3 separate regions of the Homo sapiens genome follow, and all the other regions are linked to region 2. The links come from fine-mapping of genetic effects on gene expression. A gene starts in region 2. Each other region holds a variant in brackets. All regions are shown on one strand. Distances are between the middles of the regions.

Region 1 (2,500 bases), 37 kb after region 2:
TCCACTGGGCAGCCGGCTTGGTGCCCTGTTTCCCTGTTCCTGGCCAAGCACCTCTTTGATGCCTCTTCTCCACGCACAGGAGGTGGCTGGGTGAGGAAGGAGAGGGGGCCTCTGTCAGCTCTGGTCCTGTCCAGCTGGCCAGCTCAGGGACGGAGTTCCCTCTGATGAGGTGTCTGCGCAATGCAGGTCTCTTTTGCAGATTTTACCCTCATTGCTCTGAGAAGCCCCTTCAAGTTGGAAAAACCACCATTCCCACCTGCAGCAGGCCAGTCCGTGAGCCCAGTGCCAGGCCCTGCCTGTGACGAACCTGGTCTGGAGTGTCTTTCTTTGCTGACATGAATTGAATGTTTTACCACGTGCTCATTATTCTGTGTGCTGTTCCCGTGCTAACTCGCTCAATCTTCCCCACAACCCTGGTGTGGGTGCTATGATCATTCCCATTTTACAGATGAGCAGACCAAAGCACACACAGTGCACATTACACAACTACTAGATGGCAAATCTGGGATTTCAATCCAGGCACCTGGGCTCCAGGGCTCATTTTCTTACCCACAGGCTCTACTGTCTCAACTTTAGTACCTCAGGCAGCCTTCCCTATAAAATAGATATTATTCATGCCTGCAAAAGGTATCATGTGACTCAAGGAATCCATGCACAGAAACTGTTTTGTGTCTTCACAGCAGCCCCAGAGATGTGGTCTGGATCACACCTTCTTCCCTACCTCCTCCTCTGCTGAGCCCAAGCCCAAGTCACTCACATCAGCATGGTTCATCCTCCCTCCCCTCACAGAAATCACTCCTTAGAATCTTCCAGGCCAGGGACAATCATTCCCAAAGGATCACTGCTCCATCGACTTATTACTCCTATGCAGTCAGCAACTCCATAGACCCTCGTGTCCCTTGGGCCTGCGCTGAGGGCCTCAGCTGTGGACCCCTGCTTTACTGGATGCTATAAGCAAGTTCTTGGTAATGACATCTCATGGTCATTCCTGGATGTTTGGGGGCATGTGACTCTCATATTGTTTAATTTTTCCTAGCTCTAAATCTTGCCCTTTTAGCTCCACTGTAGCCTCCTTCACAAGGCTGGAGTGTGTCTGAAGTTTCTCTGCATGGCCCAGGCCCAGCAGTGCTAAGCTCCTAGGGAACTCAGTGCAGACTCTTTTTGGTGTTCTCAGGACTTGTTACTTACACAATCCAGTCCACAGCCAGGATCAGAGGCAGGTCATGAGTAGGCAGCCCA[A/G]TGGCCTCCAGGATAATGGCAATGGTGAGGACCCCTCCAGCTGGCACGCCTGCTGCTCCAACACTGGACGCTGTGGCAGTCACTCTAAGGGATGGCAGAGCAGGGCCAGCCATTAACATAGAGCGTGGAGTGGACACAGAGAAATGCAGACCATGCAGCTGCAATGTGGCTGGAAACTAAAAACCGCCCCACCATAGGCTCTGCTGGCTACGCCCTTGAGAGTCAACACACGCTCTTCAAGTAATGAATCCCCACTGTCCTCATTTTATGAGCGAGACACCAAGTTGTGGTGAGATTGGTTTTTCAAAGGAAATCACAAGAAAAGCCTTCAGTTTTGAGCCAGGGAAAGAATGAGGAACTTACAGAATGGTGAAAATCTGTCCTGCGTTGAGCTCTACGTTGTTGAGTTGCGCAATGAACACCGCGGCCACACACTGGAAGATGGCTGCTCCGTCCATGTTCACGGTGGCCCCGATGGGGAGAATAAACCTGCTGATCCTCTTGTCCACACCATTGTTCTCTTCAATGCACTTCATCATAGAGGGAAGGGTCGCTGAGCTAGAAATGGGAAAAACAAACCGCCAGACATGACAACAGTCCGAGGCAGGCTAACATGTGTCTTGTCTCAGACCCCAGAACAGAGCAATTAGCACCATCTTCGTTTCTGGCTTTCTTCTCTTGAAATAAGGGAAAAAACAGAATCACTTTAAAACTTCTGTCACAACATGAGGCTTTGGCAACTCCCAAGATACTTAAAATATGACTGCCTTCATTTACCTATTCTGTCATTTACTTGGATTCACGTGTTCCAAGTTTCTTAAGAACTGCACATTGCCTCCCGGTGCAAAACGTTCCCGAGAGAACAAACAACTAGTTTCTCTACATGTGCATCTCCTCTCTTGAGTGTTCCCCTCCCAAAAGTAAATGGTAAACTATGATTTTTTTTTCTTTTAGGCCAAAACCCAGAAATGGCTCTGTGAGCTTGGAAGAATAACTAAGTAGATAACCATAAGAACAGTACCTGCTCCCTCTAGCTGGCTCTGCGGGCTCTGCAGAGGTTAGTTGGTGCAGCTGAGAAACAGGTTTTTGTCTAGGCCAGAGGAACTTCCTTCCCTAATTTTTTTTTTTTTTTTACTCCCACCTCTGTGTTATATAAATAGCCATCCAGATTGGGAGGAAGTGAGCAGTAGAGGCAAAACTAAATGTGTGAATGAAACGACGTGCTGCCGTCCTTTGAAAGTTTTAACATATTTGGAAAACC
Region 2 (2,652 bases):
ATCTTTCAACTAAACCCAAGGCAAACTGACCCAACAACCTTTGTTACACACTTTAACACAACACTCTTCATACCCTAGATCTGAGAACTGTTAGATTATTTACAAACGCTACCTCCCTTCGTGGTCCTGATGAATTCCCAGTGAGGTCCAATCTGCCCTGGCAGGCTTCCGCTCATTTTTGTTACAAACAATACACTAAACCCAACCTACTAATCATCAAGGGCCTGGAACAGGTTTTGGACATTCGTCCCCAGGCTGCTGAGAACTGTTCTAGTGATGACAGTTAGAAAGGGTAGCCCTCCGAGGCAAAAAAAATGAGACATCTTGATTTTTTCTCTCCGCATCTGGGCGCGGCGATAAGAAGACATCACTGGTCTCCATCTTTCCAGGGGGAAAGGCCCGAGCTGCATTAGCCCCGACTGGGGAGCTGGGTAAACAGCCCACGCCCGGGAGAGGCCTGAGGGAAAGTGACCTCCCCCGGGGCCCAGGCCGACCAGCGGCGCAGCTGCTCGGCCGCCAGATGCGCGGACTCGCGCACTCCCTCGCCGCGCCCGGGCATTCCCAAGCCCAGCCGCCCGCCTCGGCCCCGACCCCTCGGCCGCCACAGCACACGCCGTTCCGCTCGCAAGATGGAGGCGAAGGCACGAGGCGCCCCCGCCCCCCAGGGAGCCTTTGTGCCCTTGCCGGCGGGGACGCGAGGCCAGACGGCCCGCACCGCAAGGGCCCCGCAGGCACCGAAGAGACGCGGGGGAGGGGGCCGGGCGCGCGCGCGGATCTAGCCCGGGCCACCGCCCCCAGCGCCGCGGCACCCCCGACACCAGCACCCGCACGCGGGACACTGCCTACCTACCGCACCGCGAACGCTTCGCACGTCCGGAGCGGTCTCAGCAGCCCCATGCGCTGGCCCCGAGCTGGCGGACCCTGACTGCAACTGCGGCCCTCCAACCGCAGCCCAAAACGCGCAGGGCAGGACCGAGCGCCAACCACGCCCTTCGGCCGCGCTGACCACGCCCTTCTTCCCGCCCCTTCTCCCTCCGCGGGAGGGCTTTCGGCAATTTCGCGCAGCGAATCGCAGCTCTAAGTCCGCGGCTCCACCAATACGTGGACGCTCCTGCAAGATGAGCCCGCCCCCTACTTCGTCCTGGCCTATGGGAAGCCGGGACTTCTTCAGCGGCTGTCCTCCCTCGCTTTTGGAGCTCCGACCTCAGCTTCGCCTGCGAGCTGGGTTGTGTAAAGGCTGGTCATTTTGGGGCGCTTAGGGGTGGGTGCCGGGGGGCGCGCTTTCCCTCGTGAAGGTCGCTCCAGGAGTCATGCGTACATTCGTTCATTTTGCTCTGGACGCACTGATGTTCCCGGCTCGCCGCCGTGCCGCAGTCACGAGGCTCTCCGAACGCCTTTCACTGTGTTTCTGTTTACATTCGCGTCTGCAAGACCCGGCGGCGCGACCGAGGCCCGAACAGGTGCTGCGAGGCGGGGCGGGGAGCCAGTGCTGAGGGGAGCTCCCCAGGCCGGGTGGTTGAAGACAGCTTCTGGGGGGAGGTGGAGCTCTGGCTCGTGGAGAATGGGAAGGGTGTGGAAAATGAACTGGTAGCTACTTAGCCACTCTGAGCAGCCTGCTCTGATGGGAAATCGGTGATGGAGTCGGAGGGAAGTGGGAGGCAGCTTGTGGGAGGCCAGGGTGCTCACTCTCTCCCCTGCCAGCATGGGACCTAGTAACTTTCATACATCTCTATCTATCTATCTATTTTGCAAAGATGGGGTCTTGCTGTGTTGCCCAGGCTGGGCTTGAACTCCTGGACTCAGACGATCCTCCCGCCTCGGCCTCCCAAAGTGCTGGAATTACAGGTGTGAGCCACTGCATCCCATCCCCTAGGAGCTTAATGACACTGCCCTTTAGCTTTTACTGCTTAGCAGAATCCGGAGGCATAGAGGAACTACCACCAGGGTGGCGTGGGGAAGAGGCCCTCCCTTCTGATGATTTTCTCTCAGCAGCACTTTCAGCAATCTGGCTTCAACTGAATATCTCCCCAGTTCATAAAACAGGCGTCTGTAAATGTCAACCCCAGCTGGGTGCAGGGTACAAATTTTTTCCTACAGAGCTCTTGAGTCCCAGGTAGTTTAGGAGACAAGGACTTGTTTGGTTTTCCCAGACCTGTCAGGACAGCTCAGAGGTTTTGTCTAACCCAGGGGCCACAAACTTTGGACAACAGCAGCAGCTAGCCCACAGATGGTTTTATTTGGGCATCGCATAGCTTTTCTTTGTTTGTTTGCTTTTGTTTTTTAATAAGAATTTGAATCCCACCACCACCACTGGTCCATTAAGTAACAGCCAGCCTTCACACATTTGCTGCCTACCTGAAGGCATTTGTGTTTGTGACCCTTGATCTTTTCTATACACAGAAGACCTCCAGTGGAGTCACCTAATCCCACAGCCAAGTCACCCCTGCTGGACAGAGAACTGTACAAAGTCCAAACAGGCGTACATATCCTGTATGGTTTCCTCATCTATAAAGAGAGGGGATAGGATGAAGGAGTCCCAAGGTTCCTTTTGGTTCTGATGTTCTGTAATTTTGTGTTGTGAGCAGCTTTTGTTTTTGCCTGACGGGAAAACTTTCCTTTGGGAATTGTCTGCAGTCCGCTGGGTCAGATGGT
Region 3 (2,841 bases), 23 kb before region 2:
GCCCGCCACCATGCCCAGCTAATTTTTTTACTTTTAGTAGAGATGGGGTTTCGCCATGTTGGCCAGGCTGGTCTTGAACTCCTGCCCTCAGGTGATCTGCCCGCTTGGCCTCCCAAAGTGTTGAGATTACAGGCGTGAGCCACTGCGCACGGACGCTTTTGAACTTTTATTTAGACTGTCAGAATGTTTGGTTGGGGCCAAATAAAAGAAGTTGGGAAGGACTGGAACAAAACATGTTTGTAGGCTGGCTCTATGGACTTTTGACAGCATGCTCCTGGCGGAAGAAAAGTTAAGTTTTGCACCCGCTGGAGACAGACACTGACGTCTCAAGGGGGAAACAGCCACATTCCTGATTATTTCAAGCAGATGGATGGGGAAGGGCTGTGTGTCAATCTGAAAGAGCCTGGATACATATCTGAAAACCAAAGAAAACCCCAAAGCCAGTAAAAAACCTCTTGAGAGAGCAAAGTGGGACTAAGCACAGAAAAGTATTATTAAATTGATTTTAAAATGAAGGTCAAAAAACCTGAAGCTTTTAAGAGGCCTTTTTTTTTTTTGAGAAGGAATTTCGCTCTTGTTGCCCAGGCTGGAGTGCAATGGCGCAATCTCAGCTCGCTGCAACTTCCACCTCCTGGGTTCAAGCGATTCACCTGCCTCAGCCTCCAGAGTGGCTGGGATTACAGGTGCTCCCCACCACGCCCAGCTAATTTTGTATTTTTAGTAGAGACGGGGTTTCTCCATGTTGGTCAGGCTGGTCTCAAACTCCCGATCTCAGGTGATCTGCCCACCTTGGCCTCCCAAAGTGCTGGGATTACAGGCGTGAACCACCGTGTCCGGACTAGAGGCCTACTTTTACACATGGCCTCTGTGAAGAGAGGAGCCGCTCAGGCCTCTGCACCTCCAGACACTGGGAAGCTGCGGAAAGCCAGTGCCCAGGGGCTCTGCCAGGCTGCCACTTCTCCTGTGGCCTGTGGCAAATCCACAACTATCCATCTCACAGGGCTGTGATTAAATGGAGAACACTGATGTGCCAACTGCTTCAGTAAAATGCTGGTGTAAATTACATGCAGCAAAGGAGCTTGGCACATGGAATTTCTGCCCCAATAAAAAATCTAAGAACCCTAGTGAAAATGCCAGAAGAGCCAAAACAAAGGCCTTAAAAGGGCAGGGGATTGCAAAGAGCTCATATAATTCACACTAGAGAATCACTTACCTGCTGAAAACTATTCAGTGGTCCCTGTCCACTGATGCCTCTCAACCCTAGAGATTTTTCTTCCCAGGGTACACTTAGCAATGTGTAGAAACATTTTGGGTTGTCACAACTGTGGGGGAAGCAGGGATTTACTGGGGCCA[G/T]GGGTGCTGCTAAACATCCTGCAATGCATAGGACAATTCCCCACAAAATCATGCGGCCAATATGGCAAAAGCGCCAAGGCTGAGAAATCCTGCTGTACACCCTTCACGGTATGCACCTGCCCACCATGCTGGTCAGGAAAGTGCCTCCTCATTGCCTCTCAAGCCCGTGGGACCTGCCCAGCTTTGCTTCGGCGGTTGTATTCCAGTATAAATCCCATCTCACTCAAAAATGTAAAATGAGGCATAATATAGGCAGGCTGTCAGCACTTGATTTACAGTCTTGCAGGAAATTAGGGGCTGCCATCAGTTCAAGGCTTTACCCTACCATTCTCTTAGCTCATCCTCCCTATCATATCCTCATCCCCCATGCCCTCGTCCTGTAAAGACAATGAAAACTGTAAATCCTTGGCACCCAGCATGCTTAGATACATGCCTGAGGTCTGTGATTTTCACTTTCCTAAATGGGGAACCCATCCTACAAAATGGGCTCAAGTGGCTGGGTGCAGTGGCTCACGCCTGTAATCCCAGCACTCTGGGAGGCTGAGGCAGGCGAATCACCTGAGATAGGGAGTTCAAGACAGGCCTGACCAACATGGAGAAACCTCATCTGTACTAAAAACACAAAAAAAATAGCCGGGCATGGTGGCGCATGCCTGTAATCCCAGCTACTCAGGAGGCTGAGGCAGAAGAATCACTTGAACCTGGGAGGCAGGTGAACTTGCGGTGAGCCAAGATGGCACCACTGCACTCCAGCCTTGGCAACAAGAGCGAAACTCCATCTCAAAAGCAAAACAAAACAAAAAGGGGCTTGAGCTTGGTTTGCACACTACTGCCACCCTGTCCCCTCTCATCAGTTCTTCATTCAATCTGTTCCCTGAGGACAGACTGACTGTCCTCAGATACTTTTGAGCAATACAATCCTTTTCTGAAACAACTATTTCCCCAAAGCAGGACACAAGGCAGATAATCAGAGAGGAATTCAACCTGGGCTAGGTAAGGTGGGGAACCAAAGGGATACCCACTAAATACCCTAGCCACAAACTAAGGATGGTGGATTAATACTAGGATTCCTACCCAGACTACCACCAGAAAAATACAAAAGCAGAAGCAAAAGACAGCGTCATTCTTGCAGGCTCAATGCCTAATTTGTAATGGGCTTGGTTTTATAACCATGACTGCCTCTAAGCAGGTGTGTAGGGGCAGTGATGGGCAGCGACGCGTGGAGCTGGCAGATGGGGCATGGGGCATCTCGGGCAGTGGGTGTGGGCAGGGGCTCTTGTGGTACCAGCTCCTTACCAGGGATAGTGCGGTCCCTGGGCCTGCTGCTGACAGGGATTAAGCTCTGGCTAAATCCAAAACCTTAAGCATCTCACCTGGGGTGTTCTCCAACAGGCACTGAAGAAGAATCTCCCCCTTCTGTAAGACACTCTCCGTCAGAGACTGATGTTCATCTATATCTTTCTTAAATTGCTTAAGGCGTATCAGAAA

The links.
Region 1: its variant is fine-mapped to the expression of CEP68 in whole blood (TOPMed, PIP above 0.99).
Region 3: its variant is fine-mapped to the expression of CEP68 in blood mononuclear cells (TOPMed, PIP above 0.99).

The regions. Positions count from the first base shown.
Region 1 is chr2:65,017,368-65,019,867 of GRCh38, reverse strand. SLC1A4 (solute carrier family 1 member 4) reads right to left here. Exons shown (of 8, transcript NM_003038.5): 6 at 1,603-1,797; 7 at 1,189-1,323. Among named protein-coding and RNA genes, the nearest start is that of LINC02576, 12 kb to the left of the region's middle. The variant A/G (reference allele first, on the strand shown) is at 1,240.
Region 2 is chr2:65,054,723-65,057,374 of GRCh38, reverse strand. It overlaps CEP68 (centrosomal protein 68), which reads right to left and starts at 959. Exons shown (of 7, transcript NM_015147.3): 1 at 847-959. RefSeq lists silencers at 497-836, 917-1,026 and an enhancer at 1,127-1,366.
Region 3 is chr2:65,077,850-65,080,690 of GRCh38, reverse strand. It overlaps CEP68 (centrosomal protein 68), which reads right to left. Exons shown (of 7, transcript NM_015147.3): 5 at 2,727-2,823. Among named protein-coding and RNA genes, the nearest start is that of CEP68, 23 kb to the right of the region's middle. RefSeq lists an enhancer at 2,782-2,841. The variant G/T (reference allele first, on the strand shown) is at 1,354.